Linked DNA regions of Homo sapiens: region 1 is linked to region 2. The links come from fine-mapping of genetic effects on gene expression. A gene starts in region 2. The other region holds a variant in brackets. All regions are shown on one strand. Distances are between the middles of the regions.

The links. PIP is the estimated chance that this variant, and not a neighbour inherited with it, causes the effect. A credible set is the group of variants that fine-mapping cannot tell apart.
Region 1: its variant is the best candidate, but not a certain one, in a credible set for the expression of DMWD in Th1/17 cells (Schmiedel 2018, PIP 0.55).

What each region holds. Positions count from the first base shown.
Region 1 is chr19:45,720,025-45,725,397 of GRCh38, reverse strand. All of the region lies in intron 1 of FBXO46 (F-box protein 46), which reads left to right. Among named protein-coding and RNA genes, the nearest start is that of FBXO46, 8.2 kb to the left of the region's middle. RefSeq lists silencers at 3,033-3,327, 3,073-3,367 and an enhancer at 4,248-4,748. The variant G/TG (reference allele first, on the strand shown) is at 2,637.
Region 2 is chr19:45,790,091-45,795,463 of GRCh38, reverse strand. It overlaps DMWD (DM1 locus, WD repeat containing), which reads left to right and starts at 2,619. Exons shown (of 5, transcript NM_004943.2): 1 at 2,619-3,148; 2 at 4,377-4,559. The coding sequence starts at 2,708. RefSeq lists a silencer at 2,491-2,970 and enhancers at 4,119-4,168, 4,189-4,248.

The DNA of each region.
Region 1 (5,373 bases), 70 kb after region 2:
TGTTGCCCGGGCTGGAATGCAGTGGCACTATCTTGGCTCACTGTGACTTCCACCTCCTGATCTTACGCCATCCTCTCACCTCAGCCTCCAAAATAGCTGGGACTACAGGGGCATGCCACCACACCTGGCTAATTTTTGTAATTTTTGTAGAGATGAATAATACATGCTGCCAAGGCTGGTCTCGATCTCCTGAGCTCAAGTGATCTACCCACTTCAGCCTTCCAAAGTGCTAGAATTACAGGGTTGAGCCACCGCAGCCTATTTATTTATTTAGAGACAGGGCCTGTCTCTGTTGCCCAGGCTGGAGTACAGTGGTGCAGTCACAGCTTACTGCAGCCTCAAGCTCCTGGCCTCAAGTGATCCTCCTGCTTCAGCCTCCAGAGTATCTGGGACTGCAGGTGCTTGCCACCATGCCCAGCTAATTAAAAAAAAAATTTTGTTGTTGATGGGGCACAGTGGCCTCATGCCTGTAATCCCAGCACTTTGGGAGGCCTACATGGGCAGATCTCTTGAGGTCAGGAGCTTGTGACCAGCCTGGCCAACACGGTGAAACCCCATCTCTACTAAAAATACAAATTAGCCAGGCGTGGTGGCGTGTGCTTGTAGTCCCAGCTACTCGGGAGGCTGAGGCACAAGAATCACTTGAACCCCAGGAGGCGGAGGTTGCAGTGAGCTGAGATTGCACCACTGCACTCCAGCCTGGGTAACGAGCAGGCCTCCGTCTCGAACAGAAAAAATAAGAAATTTTTTTTTTGTAGAGACAGGGTCTTGCTATATTGCCCAGGCTGCTCTCAAACTCCTGGACTCAAGTGATCCTCCCACTTCGGCCTCCCAAAGTGCTGGGTTACAGGCATGAGCCACAGAGCCCAGCCCACAAGTGTTAATAGAGCACTTACCATGTGCCAGCGCCTGTATTGGGTGCAGACTCGACCCTGCCATTGGGGAACTTGCTGTTGTCATAATGGTAGGGCAGTTCTGCAAGTATGCGAGCATTTGTGCTCATTTTCAAGTTTGGGTTTCTCTATTCCCAATTCATTTTCAGCCCCTTATGCCAGCTTGGCCTGCTTGTCACTGCTTTCATGGATTTTTTAACATTCTGTCTCCAGCCCTCATTGAATTATCTGAAAACCTATTGGTTTGGGGAAAAGTTGCCAGTCTCTCACTTGTCCCTGATCCTATGTGTCACATCTGGCCACCCTGGGGTGATCTGACACTTTTTTGTTTTCCGTTGCCTTCATTTATTTGTCTTAGAGCATTTGTCTGCTTTCCAAGTTATTTTGCCTTTTCTTGAAATCTTAAATTTGTTTTCAGCCTGTGCTTGTCTGAAGCTTACTCATACAAAATGGTATTTTTACCATCTTTATTTCAAAACCTGTGACATGTACTAGGAAACGAAGAAAAAAATTGTATTTTTTACCACGTTTAATGATGTATTTCTAACTGCTATGGTAAAGCTGTCTTACTCCTAAAAGCACAAGTTTTCTTTTTTTTTTCTTGAACTCCTGAGATCAGGAGTTCAAGACCAGCCTGGCCAACATGGTGAAACCCTGTCTCTACTAAAAATACAAAAATTAGCTGGGCGTGGTGGCGCACGCCTGTAGTCCCAGCTACTCGGGAGGCTGAAGCAGAAGAATTGCTTGAACCTGGGAGGCAGAGGTTGCAGTGAGCTGAGATCATGCCACTGCACTCTAGCCTGGGTGACAGAGTGAGACTGCGTCTAAGAAAAAAAAAGAAGAATTAGTTGGGCTTGGCGGCCAAGGAGGTTGAAGCTACATTGAGCTGTGACAGAACCACTGCACTCCAGCCTGGGTGACAGCGTGAGATCATCTCAAACAAAAAGCAAAACAAAACAAAAATAAAATGAAAAAGCCAGAGTGCCCAGCTTTGAGTCCTGGCTTCACCTCTCATCAGCTGTGTGACCTAGGGTAAGTAATTTGATCCCGTTGGACGTCAGTTTCCTCCTCTGGAAAATTAGCGTTCATTCCCTAAGTAATCCACAAGTGTTTCATTCATTTATTTACTTAGAGACAGGGCCCACCTCTGTTGCCCAGGCTGGAGTGCAGTGGCATGATCATAGCTCACTGCAGCCTCACACTCCTGGGCCCAGCGGATTCTCCTGTCTCAGCCTCCCCGAGTAGCTGGAACTACAGGCTCATGCCACCATGCTCAGCCAATTTAAAAAATTATTTTAGAGATGTGGTCTCACTTTGTTTCCCAGGCTGGTCTTGATCTCCAAGGCTCAAGCGATCCTTCTGCCCTGGCCCCCCAAAGTGCTGGGATTAAGGCATGAGTCACCACCCACAGCCTTCACTTTCAATTTTTATGTTTAATTATTTATTTTTTTGAGATGGAGTCTCCCTCTGTAGCCCAGTCTAGAGTGCAGTGGCACAATCTCAGCTCACTGCAACCTCCACCTCCCAGGTTCAAGCGATTCTCCTGCCTTTGCCTCCCGAGTAGCAGGGATTATAGGCGCCTGTCACTATGCCCAACTAATTTTTTGTATTTTTAGTAGAGACAAGGTGTCACTATGTTGGCCAGGCTGGTCTCATCCTGACCTCAAGTGCCCGCTTCAGCCTCCCAAGGTGCTGGGATTACAAGCATGAGTCATCACACCCAGCCCACTTTTTTTTTTTTTT[G/TG]AGACGGAGTCTGGCTCTGTCGCCCAGGCTGGAGTGCAGTGGCGCAATCTCGGCTCACTGCAAGCTCCGCCTCCCGGGTTCACGCCATTCTCCTGCCTCAGCCTCCTGAGTAGCTGGGACTACAGGCGCCCGCCACCACACCCAGCTAATTTTTTGTATTTTTAGTAGAAACGGGGTTTCACCGTGTTAGCCAGGATGGTCTCGATCTCCTGACCTTGTGATCCGCCTGCCTGGGCCTCCCAAAGTGCTGGGATTACAGGTGTGAGCTACGCCTCAGTGCCAAACTGGTACCAGGTGCTCTGCTGGGTTTGTTTCAGCGGATGGTCAGCCAGCCCATGGGTGGATGCTGTCATTATTGCCATTTTACAGTGGGGGAAACTGAGGCACATGGGGCTGAAAAACCTGCCTGAGGTCATACTGCCAGAGGTGGGAAAGCTGGGATCCAGCAGGCCCTGTCTGGTTCCTGTCTGCTTCCAGGATCTCAGGGCTTGGATGATTCCTGCCTTCAGGGACCATTAGTCAGAAAGGAAAACTTAAAAGGGAGGGGACCCAGTGGACTCTAAGGCCAACAAGCCATGGGTGAGGTATGGATGAGTCAGGATTCTGGACAAAGGAGCAGCAGGGTAGGGCATAGAAGGAACAGGGACCGGGCGCGGTGCATCATGCCTGTAATCCCAGCACTACGGGAAGTGGGTGGATCATCTGAGATCAGGAGTTCAAGACCAGCCTGGCCAACATGGTGAAACCCTGTCTCTACTAAAAATACGAAAATTAGCCGGGCATGGTGGCAGGTGCCTATAATCCCAGCTACTCAGGAGGCTGAGGCAGGGGAGGTGGAGGTTACAGTGAGACGAGATCGTGTTACTGCACTCCAGCTTGGGCAACAGCACGACTCCATCTCAAAAAAAGAAAAAAAAAGGGTGGGGTGGTGCCGGGCGTGGTGGCTCACGCCTATAATCCCAGCACTTTGGGTGGATCACGAGGTCAGGAGACCGAGACCATCCTGGCTAACATGGTGAAACTCTACTAAAAATATAAATAATTAGCCGGGTGTGGTGGCGGGCGCCTGTAGTCCCAGCTACTTGGGAGGCTGAGGCAGGAGAATTGCTTGAACCCACGAGGCAGAGGTTCGAGTGAGCCGAGATCGTGCCACTGCACTCCAGCCTGGGTGACAGAACAAGACCCTGTCAAAAAAAAAAAAAAAAAAAGGAACAGGACCAGGAACGAAACCCTGGTGTCCTGCCACCAATTCCCATGTAACTGGGCAAGTGCCTTGTGCTGGGTGTGACCCTGGCCCTGTGATGGGGAGCGGGGTCATCTGACTAGGGGTGGGGATGGGGAAGTGGGGTGGGGTCAGACATCTACGCTTTACCATTTATCATTATTTTTCCATTCTTTCTTTCTGTTTTGGTGTTTTTGAGCCAGGGTCTCGCTTTGGCACCCAGGCTGGAGTGCAGTGGCAAAATCTCAGCTCACTGCACCCTCCACTTCCGGGCTCAAGCGATCCTCCCACTTCAGCCTCCCGAGTAGCTGTGACTGCAGGCACATGCTGGCTAATTTTTGTATTTTTAGTAGAGACGGGGTTTTGCCATGTTGCCCAGGCTGGTCTCAAATTCATTGGCTTAAGCGATCTGTCTGCCTCGGCTTCCCAAAGTGCTGGGATTACAGGCGCGAGCCACCACACGTGGCCTATTTTTCCTTATTTGTTTGGTTTATTCTGTTGTTTTTTTCCCCGCTTCACTTCTTTTTTTTTTTTTTTTTGGCTGAGAGTCTTGCTCTGTCACCCAGGCTGGAGTGCAGTGGTGCAATCTCGGCTCATTGCAGCCACGCCTCCTGGGTTCAAGCAATTCTCCGATTCTCCTGTCTCAAGCTCCTGAGTAGCTGGGATTACAGGAGCCTGCCACCACATTACAGGTGTGAGCCACTGCGCCCAGCCAGGATGATGTTTATATTGTAGTTTAGACCTTGAGCTCTGGAGTCAGCTGATCTTTGATTCTAAGTTCTGACTTGGTGTGGTTGCTCCTGCCTGTAGTCCCAGCACTTGGGGAGGCCAAGGTGGAGGATTGCTTGAGTTCAAGAGTTCAAGACTGGCCTAGGCAACATAGTGAGACCTCATCAGTACAAAAAAATGTAAAAATTAGCTGGGCGTGCTGGTATACACCTGTGGTTTCAGCTCCTCAAAAGGCTGGGATAGGCTGGGCACAGTGGCTCACACCTGTAATCCTAGCACTTTGGGAGGCTGAGGCGGGTGGATCACTTGAGGTAAGGAGTTCAAGACCAGCCTGATCAACATGGTGAAACCCTGTCTCTACTAAAAATACAAATATTAGGCCAGGTGCAGTGGCTCACGCCTGTAATCTCAACACTTTGGGAGGCCAAGGTGGGGTGGATCACCTGAGGTCAGGAGTTCGAGACCAGTCTGGCCAACATGGTGAAACTCCATCTCTACTAAAAATGAAAAAATTATCTGGACATGGTGGCGCACACCTGTAGTCCCAGCTACTTGGGAGGCTTAGGCAAGCAAATCGCTTGAACCGGGAGGCAGAGGTTGCAGTGATTGCAGTGAGCCGAGATCGCACCGTTACACTCCAGCCTGGGCAACAGAGCAAGACTCCGTCTTAAAAAAAAAAACAAAAAAGAAGGCAGCTGAGATGGGAGGATCACTTGAGCCCAGGAGATTGAGGCTGCGTTGAGGCGAGATTGCACTCCAGCCTGGGTGACAGTGAGACCATCTCAG
Region 2 (5,373 bases):
TAGCTGAGACCGCAGGTGCACATCACCACATACACTAATTTTTGTATTTTTTGTAGAGACAGGGTCCTGAGTAACTAGGACTGCAGGCACAGCCCACCATGCCCAGCTAAATTTTTTCAATTTTTCAGAGTCTCACTATGAGATGGGGTTTATGTTGCCCAAGCTGGTCTTGAACTCCTGGCATCAAGCGATCTGCCTGTCTTGGCCTCCCAAAGTGTTAGGATACAGCTGTGAGCCACCGCGACCAGCCCCACCTGTTTTATTTATTCATTTACCTAGCCATCAAACCATTATTGAAATACCTCCTGTCAGCCCACCCCTGTGCTGGGGACACAGACAGCTGCAGTCCTGCCTTCCTGGACCTCACAACACTATAGGGAGAGAGACTCATTTCCAGACAGTGACAGCCCAAATGGGGAAGCCCAGAGGACTGACAGAGCTCCCGAGCCAACTCTTAAAGGGTCAAGAAAAGAATGGGGAAAGGCATTCCAAGAATAGGGAACAGAATGTGCAAAGACCCAAGGACAAGAGAGAGTGTGATATGTTGGGGTAGTTTTTCAAGCCTCATTTTAGGTGGTGGATAGTGTGAGGAGTTAGTGGTGAGATATGAGATTGAAAAGAGGTTGGCAGGGGCCAGATCACTTGGGGCTTAACTTTCCCCTGAGAGCACTAGGGAGCTACAGATGGGTTTTGAGCAGGGGAGGGCCCTGATCATATTCATGCTTTAGAAAGACCTCTCTAGGCCTAGTGCAGTGGGTCACACATGTAATCCCAGCACTTAGGGAGGCCAAGGTTGGCGGATCACCTGAGGTCAGGAGTTTGAGACCAGCATGCCCAACATGGTGAAACCCCGTCTCTACTAAAACTACAAAAAAGTAGCTGGGTGTGGTGGCAGGTGCCTGTAATCCCAGCCACTCAGGAGGCTAAGGCAGGAGAATCACTTGAACCCAGGAGGCAGAGGTTGCAGTGAGCCAAAATCGTCCCATTGCACTCCAGCCCACGTGACAAGAGCGAGACTCTGTCTCAAAAAAAAAAAAAAAAAAAAAAAAAGCCGGGTGCAGTGGCTCATGCCTGTACTCCCAGCACTTTGGGAGGCCGAGGTGGGTGGATCACCTGAGGTCAGGAGTTCGAGACCAGACTGGCCAACATGGTGAAACCCCGTCTCTGAGCCGAGATGGAGCCATTGCACTCCAGCCTGGGTGACAGGGTGAGACTGTCTCAAAAAAAACAAAAACAAAAACAAAATAAAACCTCTCTACATGCCAAGTGAAAGGTGGAAGTGGGGGTGAGACAGAAATCTGGGAGACCAAGAGACACGGTTGATGTGGGGGTGGGGGAAGGGCTTGGGTAGAGGAGAAGCTTGGATCAGGGAGAACAAGGAACTGAGAAAGAGGAATTCCACGTGGTCGAATGCAAAAGACTTGGAGGCTGTAAGCGGGGGCAGAGTGAAGATAAATGGTACACATCTAGGAAGACACCCAGGTCTGTGGCCTGGTTGACTGAGTGGACGGCAGAGCTAGCCCTAAGGTGGGGATGCAAGAGAGGTGGAGGATTTGGTGTAAGACGTCAATTTCATTGTAGGATTCTTTTTTCTTTCTTTTTTTTTTTTTTTTAGAGAGACTGAGTCTGACTCTGTCCCCCAGGCTTTAGTGCAGTGATGTGAATTCATAGCAGTCTTGATCTCCTGGGCTCAAACGATCCTCCCACCTCAGCCTCCCAAAGTGCTGGGATTCTCGGATTCCAGGCATGAGCCACCATGCCCGAACCATTGTAGGATTTTTTTTTTTAAGTGTGAGATGCCCTTGGGACACTCTAGGGAGAAATCGTAGAGGCCATTGACTACATGAGACTAGAAAGATCTATGATGGGGCTGGGTGGCTTCAGCAGACATGGGGAGCACTGGCTATGAGTAGGAGCTGTTGGGATCAGGGGGAGACTTTGGGTTACGAGTGGATCACTGGGACACTGGGGCACCGTGGGGATCAATACAATTTGGGAATCAGAGGTAGGTTTTGGAGGACAAGTGAGGTTGTTGAAAATAAGAAAATCATGGAAATATACATTGGAGGTTGGTGGAAAATATGAAGGATGTTTGGAGTTAGCATTAATCAATAGTGGGTCAGAGGAAGTCCTCTGAGTTGTGTGGGGACACAGGGATTTGGTGGGTCACCAAGGGTGGGGAAGAATGGTAGCAGATGCTGTGGTCATTCAGGGATTTGAATATGTCAGTGGGAAACACTGGAGGTCAGGGGAGTGTATATTGGGCGTCTAAGGAGAGACCAGGGTCACTTGGGGTTGGCTGTGACTTCATGGGAAGGCTGGACTATGGATGAGGGCTTCTTTGTCGTGGGGGAAAAAAAAAAAAAAATCCCTCCGTTGCTAGGCAAACGTTCCCAGGGCGCGGTTGCTAAGGACTTGAGCTTTCTAACTGGCCACGCCTCTTTCCATTGCGGGCTCCGCCCCCGCAGCCAACCACAAGTCGGTCACAGGCTCAAAGGCCGCGCCCACCTTCTCGCCCCGCCCACAGTCCCAGCACCGTTACCCGAGCGACCGCGGGGATTCGTCCCGCCTCCGGATCTGGGTGCCAATCGAAGAGGCGTTGCCCGGGCGACGACCCCACCTTTTCCGGCGCGGGCCAGCGGCTTCCGGGAGGGGGCCCGGCTGCGGGCGGCAGTCCGGCAGTGGCGGGGCCCGGGGGGCGCCCAAGATGGCGGCGGGCGGCGCGGAGGGCGGCTCGGGCCCCGGCGCCGCCATGGGGGACTGCGCGGAGATTAAGTCGCAATTCCGCACGCGCGAGGGTTTCTACAAGCTACTCCCGGGCGACGGCGCCGCTCGCAGGTCGGGTCCGGCTTCCGCCCAGACTCCGGTGCCGCCTCAGCCACCGCAGCCCCCGCCCGGCCCTGCCTCCGCCTCCGGTCCCGGCGCTGCAGGCCCCGCGTCGTCCCCGCCGCCCGCAGGCCCCGGACCCGGGCCCGCCCTGCCCGCCGTGCGCCTCAGCCTCGTGCGCCTCGGGGAGCCGGACAGCGCCGGGGCCGGGGAGCCGCCCGCCACGCCCGCGGGGCTGGGCTCGGGGGGAGACCGCGTCTGCTTCAACTTGGGCCGTGAGCTCTATTTCTACCCAGGCTGCTGTCGTCGTGGGAGCCAACGGGTGAGCGGCCTGCATCGTGGGGCCCTGGGTGCTGAAAGGATGGAGGTTCCAGAGAACTGATAGGAGGGTCCCCGAATTGATATGGGGCCCTGAGATAGGCATTCTAAATGTGATGGACGTTGTAGGGCGACAGCATTGGAGGGAGTACAGGATTCTGAAATGTGATGAGAGGCCCGCGGGGTGCTGGGCAGGCATCTTGGAGGTGATGGGGGAAATCCCCTTTACCCCCGTTATGCGTAGGAGTTCTGGGATGGTGACTATTGGACATGATGGGGTATCTGAGATGAGGTGGGATCCCCCGGGTTCTGGGGTGGCAGGCATTCTGCAGGTAATGGGGAATCATGAGGTGATGCAAGCCCAGAGGTGATGGAGAACCCAGTATTGCAGCCTGGAGGTGTGGGAGAGGGGTCTTGAGATTGAGCCCAGGAATGAGGAGAAGTCTAGAAGTGATGGGGGCCTTGAAGGTGATAGGGGATCCAGAAGCTGAATGGGATTCTAGAGAAAATTGGGGTCTGGAAGTCATGAGGGTCCTGGAGGAGATGAGCGTCCGGAAGCTGATGGGAGCTCTCAAGGGAATGAGAGGCCCTGGCAGGGGAATCTGCAGGTGTGATTCAGGACATCTCTAAAGCGATGTGGTGAGAACCCTGGCCGTTTATGGTGATCCCAGAAATGATGGGGATCCTTCGGAGCCCCTAGGTAATAAATGGGCCTAAAATGTGGGAGACCGTGAGGTTTGACGGGTCCCAGAACTGTGGCGGTTTAGGGACTACAAAGTGAAGAGAATGCTAGGATGTTAGGCTTTAGAGTCCTGGAAATTTGGGTGACCTCAAGGTTTGGGGGTCTTGGAATAGTGTGGTACTAGGTCCCAAGGGAGTTGCTGAGGTTATAGGATGGAGTGGTGAGGCTAAAAGGAATCGGAGCTTAGGAACTGTGTGGACCCAGAACCCTGATTATGTGGACAAGGGTGTCTCTGAATTAGAGGTGACCCAACTTTGGGGAGGCACTGTGGTCAAGGGGGATCCTTACCATCTTTTTTGCTACTCTTGTCTGTGATTTGGGTCCCCTTCCCGTCTGTGGTTGCCCCGTCCTTCGCAATCCACCTACTCACCTCCCCACTTCCCTCTGGGTTCTAACCCTGCTTCCTCTTAGTGGTTTCCCCCAACCTCAACATCCTCTTCCTTCTCCTCAGTGGCATACACCATTAACTCCTTTTCTCCCACCCCTCAAGTCCATTGACCTCAACAAGCCAATTGACAAGCGGATCTACAAGGGCACCCAGCCCACCTGCCACGATTTCAACCAGTTCACTGCTGCCACCGAGACCATCTCGCTGCTGGTGGGCTTCTCAGCGGGTCAAGTGCAGTACCTGGATCTCATCAAAAAGGACACCAGCAAGCTGTTCAATGAGGAGGTGATTGCAGCCCCCAGAGCCCCCAACTTCTCTGCCTTCTCACCTACCCACTATATGCCATTAGGATGCAGCTGCCTGCGGAACAGTGTAGGCCTGAGAGGGGCAGGACCAGGGAGAGATGGAGAATGGGGTGACAGCAGCTAATGACAGCTGCCTTTACTGTACCCAGGCCCTGTGCTGTGTTACCCTTGTGCTGAATACTTTACTCCTTGGGTTTTCTTTCTTTCTTTCTTTCTTTTATTTATTTATTTTGAGATGGAGTCTCACCCTGTCACCCAGGCTGGAGTGCAGTGGCGCGATCTCTGCTCACTGCAAGATCCACCTCCCGGGTTCATGCCATTCTCCTGCCTCAGCCTCCTGAGTAGCTGGGACTTCAGGCACCTGCTGCCACGCCCGCCTAATTTATTGTAGTTTTAGTGGAGATGGGGTTTCACCGTGTTAGTCAGGATGGTCTCGATCTCCTGACCTCGTGATCTGCCCACCTCGGCCTCCCAAAGTGGTGGGATTACAGGTGTGAGCCACCATGCCCGGTTCTTTTTTTTTTTTTTAATTGTAATTGTAATTTTTATTGTTTTTAATTTTTTTTTTCTTTTTAAGGCGGAGTCTCACTCTGTCGCCCAGGCTGGAGTGCAGTGGTACAATCTCGGGTCACTGCAACCTCCGCCTCCCAGGTTCAAGCAATTCTCCTGCCTCAGCCTCCTGAGTAGCTGGGACTACAGGTGCGCACTATCATACCTGGCTAATTTTTTTTTTTGAGATGGAGTCTCGCTCTGTCGCCCAGGCTGGAGTGCAGTGGCGCGATCTCGGCTCACTG